3 linked regions of the Homo sapiens genome follow. The protein of the gene in region 1 interacts with the protein of each later gene in a pairwise test. Each region holds a gene or a part of one and is shown on either strand. Other genes may lie near its edges. The genes, in order: ALB, IMMT and WFS1.

Region 1 (3,751 bases):
TTTATATGTATGCGTGTGTCAGTAGATCTATGCACACACATAGATTAAGCAAGCAAATTGTATGCCAAATAGATCTAATTGTCAAGACTAGGCATTTTTAAAGTCCTTAGAATTACTTAAAACTAAAACAAACCCCACAGATTTCCTTTTTCTTTTTTGAGACAGAGTCTCACTCTGTCACCCAGGCTGGAGTGCAGTGGCACAATCATGGCTCACTGTAGCCTTGACCTCTCAGGTCCAAACGATCCTCCTACGTCAGCCTCCTAAGTAGCTAGGACTACAGGCATGTGCCACCATGCCTAATTTTTTTGTTTGTTTGTTTTGTTTTTTTTAAAGAGACTTGCCCAGGCTGGTCTTGAACTCCTGGGCTCAAGCAATCCTCCTGCATCAGCCTTCCAAAGTGCTGGGATTACAGGTGTGAACCACCGCACCTGATCCCCACACACGTCTTTAATTAGCCTGTAGGATTAGGTAGACTTTTAAAAAAACAATTTTCTCATTTTTTACTAGATTAAAAAACATTTAAATAGGCCGGGCGCGGTGGCTCACTCCTGTAATCCCAGCACTTTGGGAGGCCGAGGTGGGCAGATCACGATGTCAGGAGATTGAGACCATCCTGGCACACGGTGAAACCCCATCTCTACTAAAAATACAAAAGATTAGCCGGGCGTGATGGCGGGCGCCTGTAGTCCCAGCTACTCGGGAGGCTGAGGCAGGAGAATGGCGTGAACCCGGGAGGCGGAGTTTGCAGTGAGCCGAGATTGCGCCACTGCACTCCAGCCTGGGCGACAGAGCGAGACCCTGTCTTAAAAAAAAAAAAAAATTAAATATTCCCAACTAAGCACAGGAATGCTTGCTATGTAAAGAAGATTTAGTGGGTAAGCCACCAAAGGAAACCTATATTAAAGTCCTTTCCACCAAGCAAGTTCCAGAGCTGTACTGTCCAATACAGTAGCCATTAGCCACATGTGACTATATACATTCAAATTAACTACAATTAAATACAATTTAAGTTTTTGTTTCTCAGTTGCACTTGTCATATTTGAAGTACTCAATAGCCATGTGACCAGTGACTACCTTATTGGATAGCCCAGATACAGAATATCTTCCTCAACGCAGAAAACTCTACGAGGCAGCACTGTTTTAGAATCTGAACCCTGATGACAAGGAAATATAAGCACTTTAGAATAATAAACAACACTATTAGAAACATTAAATTTGATTCATCAATATTTTAACTTACAAGGCTTTGAAATTTTCTTCTCCCAAATCTTTAAACCGATGAGCAACCTCACTCTTGTCTGGGCAAGGGAAGAAAAAAAAGGATTGTTAAATACTGAAGAAAACAAGAAGTAATAATGTTACTTTTTATATTTCTTTCCATTTGACTTAGATTATGCATTTGTTTCAAAATATTGGGCTCTGATTCCTACAGAAAAACTCAGGATGATGTTCAATTATTTCTTCTGCCTTTAAACAGAAGAATAATTCAATTACCAAGAATACTATTTTAAAAATTATTAAATATTTATAGCCTTATATTCAAACTTAGATAATATCTAATACTCTTTTAGTGTCTATCAACAGCAACCAAGAAGACAGACTAAAATGAAAATAAATATAAATACAAGTTCTATTTATGAGATCAACAGCACAGGTTTTGTGGTTTTTAAATAAAGCATAGTGCAATGGATAGGTCTTTGGGATAGTTATGAATTCAATCTTCAACCCTATTCTGTGAAGTTTCAGTCACTCTAAGTTACTTTGCACTTTCCTTAGTGCGCAAAAGAAAATTACAGTCACTAAACAATTCTGACCTTTTTTTTTTTTTACCTAGGATGTTTGAATTTTATTAATAAGATAACCTTGTAAGACTTCACAAATACAAAATACTATGCCATTTTAGAAATAAATGCCAAAATAATTCTTTAAAGATGCAGAGTTTACTAAAACTTTATTTTACTGGGAAAATAGAATAAAAGTTGAACAATAGAAAAATGGATTTCTTACGTGCATCTCGACGAAACACACCCCTGGAATAAGCCGAGCTAAAGAGAAAAAGAAGGGAAATAAAGGTTACCCACTTCATTGTGCCAAAGGCGTGTGGGGTTGACAGAAGAGAAAAGCTAGGACAAACGGAGGGAAATTAGCACTAATATACTTCTTTAACCAATAATTGTAGATTATTAACTAGACTCATCTTTGTATTTCATTGGCTGCCAACCGATTACAAAATTCATAATATTCTTGCCAAAAAATTGTTTGACTAAATCCCTTGTGTATATTTACCATCTGGAACTGTTTTCTCCACAAGACCTTGTCAATGTATTAAAGTTGTGTAAAACATCTTATCAAATTTTACATAAGAGTTTAAACGATTTGTACCTTTTATTCATTACCATGGTATTTAACTGTAATTTCCCACTTGAACATTTTAGTTCTTGGTGTTTGCAATTTAGTTCTCAGTGTTTAGTAATTACTAACCAAACTAAATACTTTGCTTAGAAATAAGACATACTGAAAGAGTTAAGTCCCAAATTGCATCTATTGCTAATTCCAAGTGTGCTTTTACCTATAGATAATGAAAAATTTACACACAAGTACTCACGCATGCACACACACATATACATACATACATATTTTAGGGCTTCTGTGTCTTTTTTACTATTCCAAAGCCATTCTGTCTGAAAAAGCTGATGTTGCCTCAGATGCAAACTAAGAAAAAGACATAGCAACAATAACAAGTAAGATAGGACTTAGAAATTCCATGTTCCCATTCCTGCTGTGGCCCACATGTGATTCAAGCCCTGAGATAGGCTATTTAGATTCAGTGTGAGTATATCTCATGGGATCTTCAGTTAAGCAGAGATGGAGAGGAAAATGGACCCAAATGAGATGATGATTATCTTTGCCATAATATACAATAGGACAGGCTGACCCCAAATTCTCTGTAGGTTATGAGAACCCTTGACCTTCACCAGGCATAGGATTCTTTCCATCCCTGTTTCATATTTTTTTCCTTTCTCTCTTTCAATAAGTAGAAAAATCACATGTTCTTTTATGTTGCTTTAAATTTCAAAATAAATTTAACATTATGTCTAAAAACAAAGCGAAGGAAGAATAATTTTTTAAATATTTCATAAATCTTCCTTCCCTACCCAAGGTTCTTATCTCTACCTCAGAAAAGCTATCCTACCTCTGCCCTTTTGCTCAGAATATGAAGAACTACTGAGCTCAACCAGTAGGAAGAACAACTTTCTCTGATACTACAGAACAATAATTAGTACTAAGCCAGTTATTTTACTTAATTAAATAACTCAGTCAGTCAAAACCAGTAGTCAAATTTCCTCATGGCACATAGAGGCACAGAGACTAACAAAGTATTATTTTTTCTACTCAGTCTTATAATGAAAGAAAATTTTTTCTATTCAGTCTTACAATGAAAGAAATTATTTTCTATAATCTTATGTTATTTCTTCTTCAGAAATGGGTACTAATTAACTAATAAAGCACAGAAGAGGAAAAAATCAAAGCTAGATGGATGATAGATACATAGATAGATAGGAAGATTTTTTTTAATGACTCAAGGGAGTCCTGAAAGGAAATACCAGACTTGTCTTTCTGACTACAGATGAACAGACATAAAACAAGTGTGCCTATTTTCCATTGAAGAAAAACAAGCATTTTTTCTAAAGCCAGAAAAACCTACATCTGAAAAGAAAAAAGAAACTATTCTAAGTTAAGAAAATAA
Region 2 (3,651 bases), on another chromosome or scaffold:
AGTAGATGCTCAGTGAATGTTTATGACATATATAAATGAAAGAATGAATGTGTTCATGAATTTTTTTTTAATTTAAAAAGATTTTTTAGAGATGGGGTCTCATTATGTTTCCCAGGCTGGTCTTCAGCTTCTGGGCTCAAGTGATATGCCCACCTCGGCCTCCCAAAGTGGAATTTTTCTTAATCTGTGTAAGTGGATGTGACCTCCCTTTAAACATCCCATAGATTTTCAAACCTCTGATTATATATTCAGATTCTCCAGAGAAACAGAAACAATAAGGGTGTGTGTGTGTGTGTAGAGATAGGGTCTCATTCTGTTGCCCAGGCTGGAGTACAGCAGTGTGATCATAACTCATTGCAGTCTCAATCTCCTGGGCTTAAGCGATCCTCCCACCTCACCTCCTGAGTAGCTGGGACTACAGGCTTATGCCACCATGCCCAGCCAATGTTTTGGACTTTTAGTAGAGATGGGATCTCGCAATGTTGTTCCAGCTCATTTTGAACTTCTGGGCTCAAGCAATATCCCCACCTTCTCCTCCCCAAAGTGCTGGGATTACAGGCGTGAGCCATAGTGCCCAGCCTAGGAAGATTTATTATTTATTTATTAATTTTTTTTGAGATGGAGTCTTGCTCTGTCACCCAGGCTGGAGTGCAGTGGCGCCATTTCAGCACACTGCAAGCTCCGCCTCCCGGGTTCATGCCATTCTCCTGCCTCAGCCTCCCAAGTAGCTGGGACTACAGGCGCCTGCCACCACGCCTAATTTTTTTTTTTTTTTTTTTTTTGTATTTTTAGTAGAGACGGGGTTTCACCGTGTTAGCCAGGATAGTCTCGATCTCCTGACCTTGTGATCCCCCCACCTTGGCCTCCCAAAGTGCTGGGATTACAGGCGTGAGCCACCGCGCCTGGCTGAAAGATTTATTGTAAGGACTCTACTCACACAGTTATGGAGACTGGCAAGTCCAGAATCTGCTGTGTGGTTTGGCAGACTGGAGACCTAGGACAGCCAATATTGCAGTTGCAGTCTGCTGGCCAGCAGCCTGGAAACCCAGGAGAGTGGATGGTGCAGTTTCAGTCTGGAGGCAGTCTGCTAGAGAATTGCCTCTTGCTTTTTGTTGTTTTTGAGCCCTCAACTGATTGAATGAAGCCCACCCATGTTATAGGGCAAATTTTTTTTTTTTTTTTTTTGAGATAGGGTCTTGCTCTGTCACCCAGGCTGGAGTGCATTGGTGCAATCTCAGCTCACTACAACCTCCATCCACCAGACTCAAGCCATCCTCCCACCTCAGCCTCCTGAGTAGCTAGGACTGCAGGCATGCACCACCACACCCAGCTAACTTTTGTATTTTTTTTTCTGTAGAGACAGGCTATATTACCCAGGCTGGTCTCAAACTCCTGGGCTCAAGCAATCCACCCGCCTTTGCCTCCCAAAGTGATGGGATTACAGGAGTGAGCCACCATGCCTGGCCACTAGTTCACCAATTAAAATGTTAATCTCATCCAAAAACACAGTCCAAGTTGACACATAAAATGAACCATCACAGATAGTATCTACCTTATTCTTTGCCCAGGCTGGAATGCAGTGGTGCAATCTCGGCTCACTGCAACCTCCGCCTCCTGGGTTCTAGCAATTCTCCTGCCTCAGTCTCTCGAGTAACTGGGACTGCAGGCACGTGCCACTGTGCCCAGCTAATATTTTGTATTTTTAGTAGAGACAGGGTTTCACCATATTAGCCGGGATGGTCTCGATCTCCTGACGTCGTGATCTGCCCGCCTTGGGCTCCCAAAGTGCTGGGATTACAGGCTTAAGTCACTGCACCCGACACAGTATCTGCCTTATTCTTTATGTTTGGGCTTATCATCCTTGCATTCCTTAGATGTGGGTATTCAGTAAATGTGCTTTAGAACTCTGGTCCCTCTGTTTTTGTTTTCTTCTTTTATTCCTCAGACCTAACACCATCTTTCTTCTCTTAGTCCCAATACTGCATCACCAGGCCCAGCCTTTTTGAAGTGGTCATTGAGTTTGGAGGACATGGGCTTTCCGCCTAGCCTAGCCTTCTCTCAAACTACAAACCTGGAAGTGGTCATTTACATATGGAGTAGTCTTTCCTGCTTATAACTTGAAAGAAGAAGAAGAAACATTATTATTCTTGAGGATCAACCGCTCCAGCTTACTTAAGACCAAGTTTGATAACCCAGCTAGTTTAGGATTGAACTTGTGTGTGGACATGAGCTATCATCTTCTAGAATTCCTTCTTTCTGTTAGGATTATGAAACATTATGTTACTCAGTGATAGAGATAGGCAGCCAACCACACGTGCTAGAAAGTAGTTTAGTAGATCATGCGGCCAGGTGTTTGCTTCTACCCATGCTAGAATCCTCTTCATTGTTCCTTTTTTCATATCTCTAGACCAGTAGCCTTCAAACCATTTTGAAATACATCTTACGCCGTAACTTACTACACCGAAGTGATAACATACAAAATATATTCACATATGTGCAGGGAAAACTAAAGTGTCAAGTTCCTGCTTTTGTCATACTGATAAGTATCTGCCATTTCTATAACTAAAGAGCACGTGTTCTCCTAGAATAGAATATGTTTATACTGAAATGTAATGCTGCTTCAATGTAAAATTGTAATGTAAAATGTAAAATTTCAATGTAAAAACTTACTGGATTTTTTTGTGGGATATACTTTTTAACCTTAATGCATGATTCTTATAAACTATTTTAAATTAACAGTAGAAAAAGTTAATTTGTTGTATATCAATCTATATTTCAAATGTAGAACTGCCCATTAACTTATGGGTGCCTTTTTCGTTTGTGTGGGAGGAGTCCTTATGTATGACAAGATCCACAAAAACGTTATCAGTTGACAGCAACCAGCAGTCTGTGGAGGAAACCTGGAACCTCTAGTTAGAGTTCACATGAGGCAGCTCATACTACAGGCTCCATGTCCAGGTTGTCATGCTAGATTGTGGTTTCTTTATGTCTTCACTTTAGTTTGGTAGAGCTAAGGAACAGATGGTCTGTGTAACAGCATTAATCATGGGGCGGAACACTTGAGGTCAGGAGTTCAAGACCAGCCTGGCCAATATGGTGAAACCCCGTCTCTACTAAAAATACAAAAATTAGCCGGGTGTGGTGGCAGGTGCCTGTAATCCCAGCTGCCCGGGAGGCTGAGGCAGGAGAATCTCTTAAACCCAGGAGATGGAGGTTGCAGTGAGCCGAGATCACACCATTGCACTCCAGCCTGGGTGTCACAGCGAGACTCCATCTCAAAAAAAAAAAGAACATTACATGGGAATTATATGTTTCCTCTTTTTTTTAATATCACGTTTCTGCGGGTTAGAAGCAGCAAGGCTAACCTTATAACATATGTCTAGACAGATTGCTTTGAAACAGTGTTGTCCTTTCTATGTCATAGGTCCTTATTAATAAAAAGGAATTCCAGGACAAAAAAGTAGCCAATATTTTGTGTGTTAATGTAGGATATTTAGTTTATGTTAATAGTTTAGTACTTAAGAGAGCTCTGGAGACAGACCTTATGTTTGGCAATGGTTTCTTAACTATAACACCAAAAGCACAAGCAACAAGAGAAACTAAAGATAAATTGGACTTCATTAAAATTTTAAATTTTTGTGCATCAGAGGG
Region 3 (3,651 bases), about 67 Mb from region 1:
CCCAGAAACCAACACAGAGAGTAAAAAGCAAACTAAGGCAAACAGTGCGGTGGGGGCATCAGAAGAGACTAGAGTGAGCAGAGATCCCGTGACCCGTGTCACGCCGGAGCAAGGGCTTTATTTTATTCAACAGAGGCCCTCACATGCTGCTTAGCAACATGGAAAAACACCACCATCCCTGTAATGAAGGACAACCACCGGCCACAGACACAGAGCTGAAAGCGCTGCAGGATCCCGAGCCCCGGACCCGGATGGGCCCTGGATGAGCGGCGTTAGGGGTGGGATGCAAACCCCTGGCACTGCTGGACCTTGAACCTGCTGCTGTGTGAGGCTGTGGAAACTTTTCCTCAGATTCCCAAATGACCCTCCCAAGCTCAGGGCCACAGCCATCCTCTGAGGCACAGAGCAGGGAGAGGCTGGTAACAGAGAGTCTCGCTCCCAGCCCCAAGCTGCCGCAGCGCTGTACTCCTGGCTCTGTGCCCACCAGCTGTGTGGTCCTGAGCAGCCCACATCCCGCTCTGCACCTCAGCCTCCTCATCTGAAAATGGGGACGGGGCAACTGTGAGGACCAGTGAGACCAGACACCATGGGCAGCACGAGGGAGTCCCCTGGCCACCTCTGAACACCCAGCGCTTGGCACTGAGCAGCCAGGTCTGAGTAGGTGCCCAGAGGTCACTTTTGGGGGCAGCTGTGACTGGAAGAGTCAGGAGTGGCCCCAGGCTCCACACACAACAATTTCTGCTCCATTCCCGCTGCAAATGAGTCCTAAAGATCAGACTGGTGTCGCTCAAGAACTCTGCAGATTTCAATCCACACGTTCCTCCCTCAGAGGGACTGAGCCCTTAGTGTAAAACATCCCCCAGGTGCAAACCATGCATGGTCAAGCACACCCCCCCCCCCCACCCCACCCCCGTGCATCCCCCAGGTGCAAACCATGCATGGTCAAGCACCCCCGGGTGCATCCCCCAGGTGCAAACCATGCATGGTCAAGCTTGGGAGCCTGCTCCATCCTGTTTCCAAGTTCCCAGCTCCCGGGAACTGGCACCTTCCACAAAAGCAGCCATTTAACTGCACGTGCAGACCTAAGTGTCCCCTTAGTCAGCTGTGGCAGAGAAATACAGGATCGCACGTAGAACCCACACGCTGTGGGCAAACAGAACCACGGTCCTGCAGGCCACCGGACCACCTGAGATGGTGAAAAGTCAGGTCTTCAAATGACACGTGGCCTTGTCTACCTTCTCTCCCATGGTTCCCACTGCCCCGAAGTCAGGTGTCACTTTCTCAGACAGAGAGAGAGGGCACCTTTACTGAGGGCTGACCTACGCCAGGGCATCTCTGCCATCAAGACCAACGGCTCTGTTCTCTGTACTTGTCTTTTCTCATGAGTTTCTCGTATGGCCCTGGAAGGTAGGTCCTATTGTCGTGAGTTCCTCGCATGGACCTGGAAGGTAGATCCTATTGTCATCCCAGAGTTATAGATGGGGAAATGTTTTATCCTTCAACCTCACCCCACTTCACAGACAGGAACCCAGGTGCAGGGAGGGGAGGGACCTGCTCAAGGTCAAACAGCTCCAGGTACCAGACCTGAAATTCAAATCCAGACCTGCCCAATTCTAATGCTTCTGCAAGCTCATTTCTGAAAAAGACGACTTTGAAATCAGACCGCCATGCCACTGCACCCTCTCTCCCGGGGCCCATTCACTGCAAAACACTGGCTACCCTTCAACATCAGCATACAAATGCTGACCTCCACACTTCTGTTTCTGCAGGGCCCTCTTCCCGGAATGCCTTCTTACCCCCCTCCCCCAGCCTAGACCCTAAGCACCCTTCAAGTCAAGAGCTCCAGCGATACCTCCTTTGTGGGAGCTTCCAAGCTATGTCTGTCCCGAGTCCCTGTCTTCCTCACCTACTCAGGTAAACACACAGCACTCAGGCGATCACCTCTCCATCAGAGCCCTCCCTCTGCTAGAGGTTACAGCTGGAAGCAACATGGTGTGGGGCGTCGGTTACCCTTACTAGTGGCCACATGACCTCACTGTGTCTGTTTCCCCATATGTAAAATGGGGATAGCACCTCCCACATAGGGGTGCTATGGGGATTACGTGTGTGGCAGAAGAGAAAGCAAACTATTGGGCATTAAAAAAAAACTAAGCCGGCCAGGCGCGGTGGCTCACGCCTGTAATCCCAGCACTTTGGGAGGCCGAGGCGGGCAGATCACAAGGTCAGGAGATCAAGACCATCCTGGCTAACACAGTGAAACCCCGTCTCTATTAAAAATACAAAAAAATTAGCCAGGCGTGGTGGCGGGCGCCGATAGTCCCAACTACTGGGGAGGCTGAGGCAGGAGAATGGTGTGAACCCAGGAGATGGAGCTTGCAGTGAGCCGAGATCGCGCCACTGCACTCCAGCCTGGGTGACAAAGCGAGACTCCGTCTCAAAAAAAAGAAAAAAGAAAAAGGAAAAGAAAAACCCTAAGCCATTACTCCCAGGTGCTAAACAAAGGCATGTTCAGTTGGAAAACACTTCATAAAAGGAATTTCAGGAAAACAGATTCTAGCTGGCCTATGTACCATGTATGTCACACTGCAGTTAAAAAAAAACTGTTTAAAGTAAAATCTCTGGTTAGTAAGAATGGATGAATACAGGAGGATTAATTTTCAGGTTCCCTGGGGGTTGGCCAAGTCTGGTTTGGATCAAAGGGCTTGTTATTTCAAAACAAGCACAACAATTCCTGGTCATGGTTGGTCACAGGGACAATGAAGATCAGAAAAGATCTCCCGGTGGAAGGACCTGCTGTCTGGTCCTTCCCTCTCTGAGTCTTCCTGCATGTTACAGCCACTGTGAGCCCTGAGGGCAGGGCTGCAGCTTATCCACTCGGAAGACCGGCTGCCTTGCCAGGAATACGTTAAGCACTTAATGCATGTGGGCAGAAGCCTGAGGCAGCCTGGCCTAGGGCAGGAGCACCATCCAGGCAATAATGCTGTGGGACCTTAGCAAGTCCCTCCCCCAGACCCCAGCATCCAGGCATCTCCAGCTGCATCCACTCTGCACCCTCAGATCCCCACCTGCACGGTGGGGCACTCAGCCCCAACTCCCTACTGGTGACCACAGCAATGGCTTAGAAGCCGTCACTGTGTAAGATCCACAAAACCAAAGTTGCTAGCATTCTTTCCTCATGAGCAATGAGGCATATTTTTATCCCGTCCAAACACAAACACCGGCACCAAGGAGTTCAGCTGAGAGGCCGCCACCTGGAGAGGGCTGCAGGCACCATGCATCCACTCAGACCCGCAGCAGAATGACCACACGTGGCCTTCTGCCCTAAGGGCTCTGGCCCTCACCCAGGCCACCCCCATTCTGTTCTCTCTGGGGGGGCAACCCCATCTCCCAAGCCAGTGCCTCAGAAACAGCCCCTGTGGGAAGCCAAGATGATGTTCACTCTCTCTGATCAGTGCCTCTGCCTCCAGGATGCCAGTCCAGGGGAGTCACTGGAGATGCCCTCGGGGCTCACACACAATGTCCATCATATGGCACTTTCAGCACTGTCCAGAAAGGGGCTGGCTATAAAGCCTACACCCCTCCATATGGTGCAACGCTGTACAGCTGGTAAACGTGACCTCGTACATGAACGTTTTGAGACAAGGAAAAGGT

Evidence for each region.
Region 2: the proteins of ALB (region 1) and IMMT interact in a two-hybrid assay, tested with the Homo sapiens proteins (one large-scale study listed by BioGRID and IntAct).
Region 3: the proteins of ALB (region 1) and WFS1 interact in binary tests that used the Homo sapiens proteins (3 or more experiments, as listed by UniProt).

What each region holds. Positions count from the first base shown.
Region 1 is NC_000004.12:73,402,666-73,406,416, reverse strand, and holds the start of ALB (albumin preproprotein), read right to left. Parts: upstream 2,131-3,751; 5' UTR 2,090-2,130; coding exon 2,011-2,089; intron 1,302-2,010; coding exon 1,244-1,301; intron 1-1,243. UniProt on the Homo sapiens protein: Binds water, Ca(2+), Na(+), K(+), fatty acids, hormones, bilirubin and drugs. Its main function is the regulation of the colloidal osmotic pressure of blood. Major zinc transporter in plasma, typically binds about 80% of all plasma zinc.
Region 2 is NC_000002.12:86,188,879-86,192,529, reverse strand, and holds part of IMMT (MICOS complex subunit MIC60), read left to right. Parts: intron 1-3,651. UniProt on the Homo sapiens protein: Component of the MICOS complex, a large protein complex of the mitochondrial inner membrane that plays crucial roles in the maintenance of crista junctions, inner membrane architecture, and formation of contact sites to the outer membrane.
Region 3 is NC_000004.12:6,272,850-6,276,500, reverse strand, and holds part of WFS1 (wolframin), read right to left. Parts: intron 1-3,651. UniProt on the Homo sapiens protein: Participates in the regulation of cellular Ca(2+) homeostasis, at least partly, by modulating the filling state of the endoplasmic reticulum Ca(2+) store.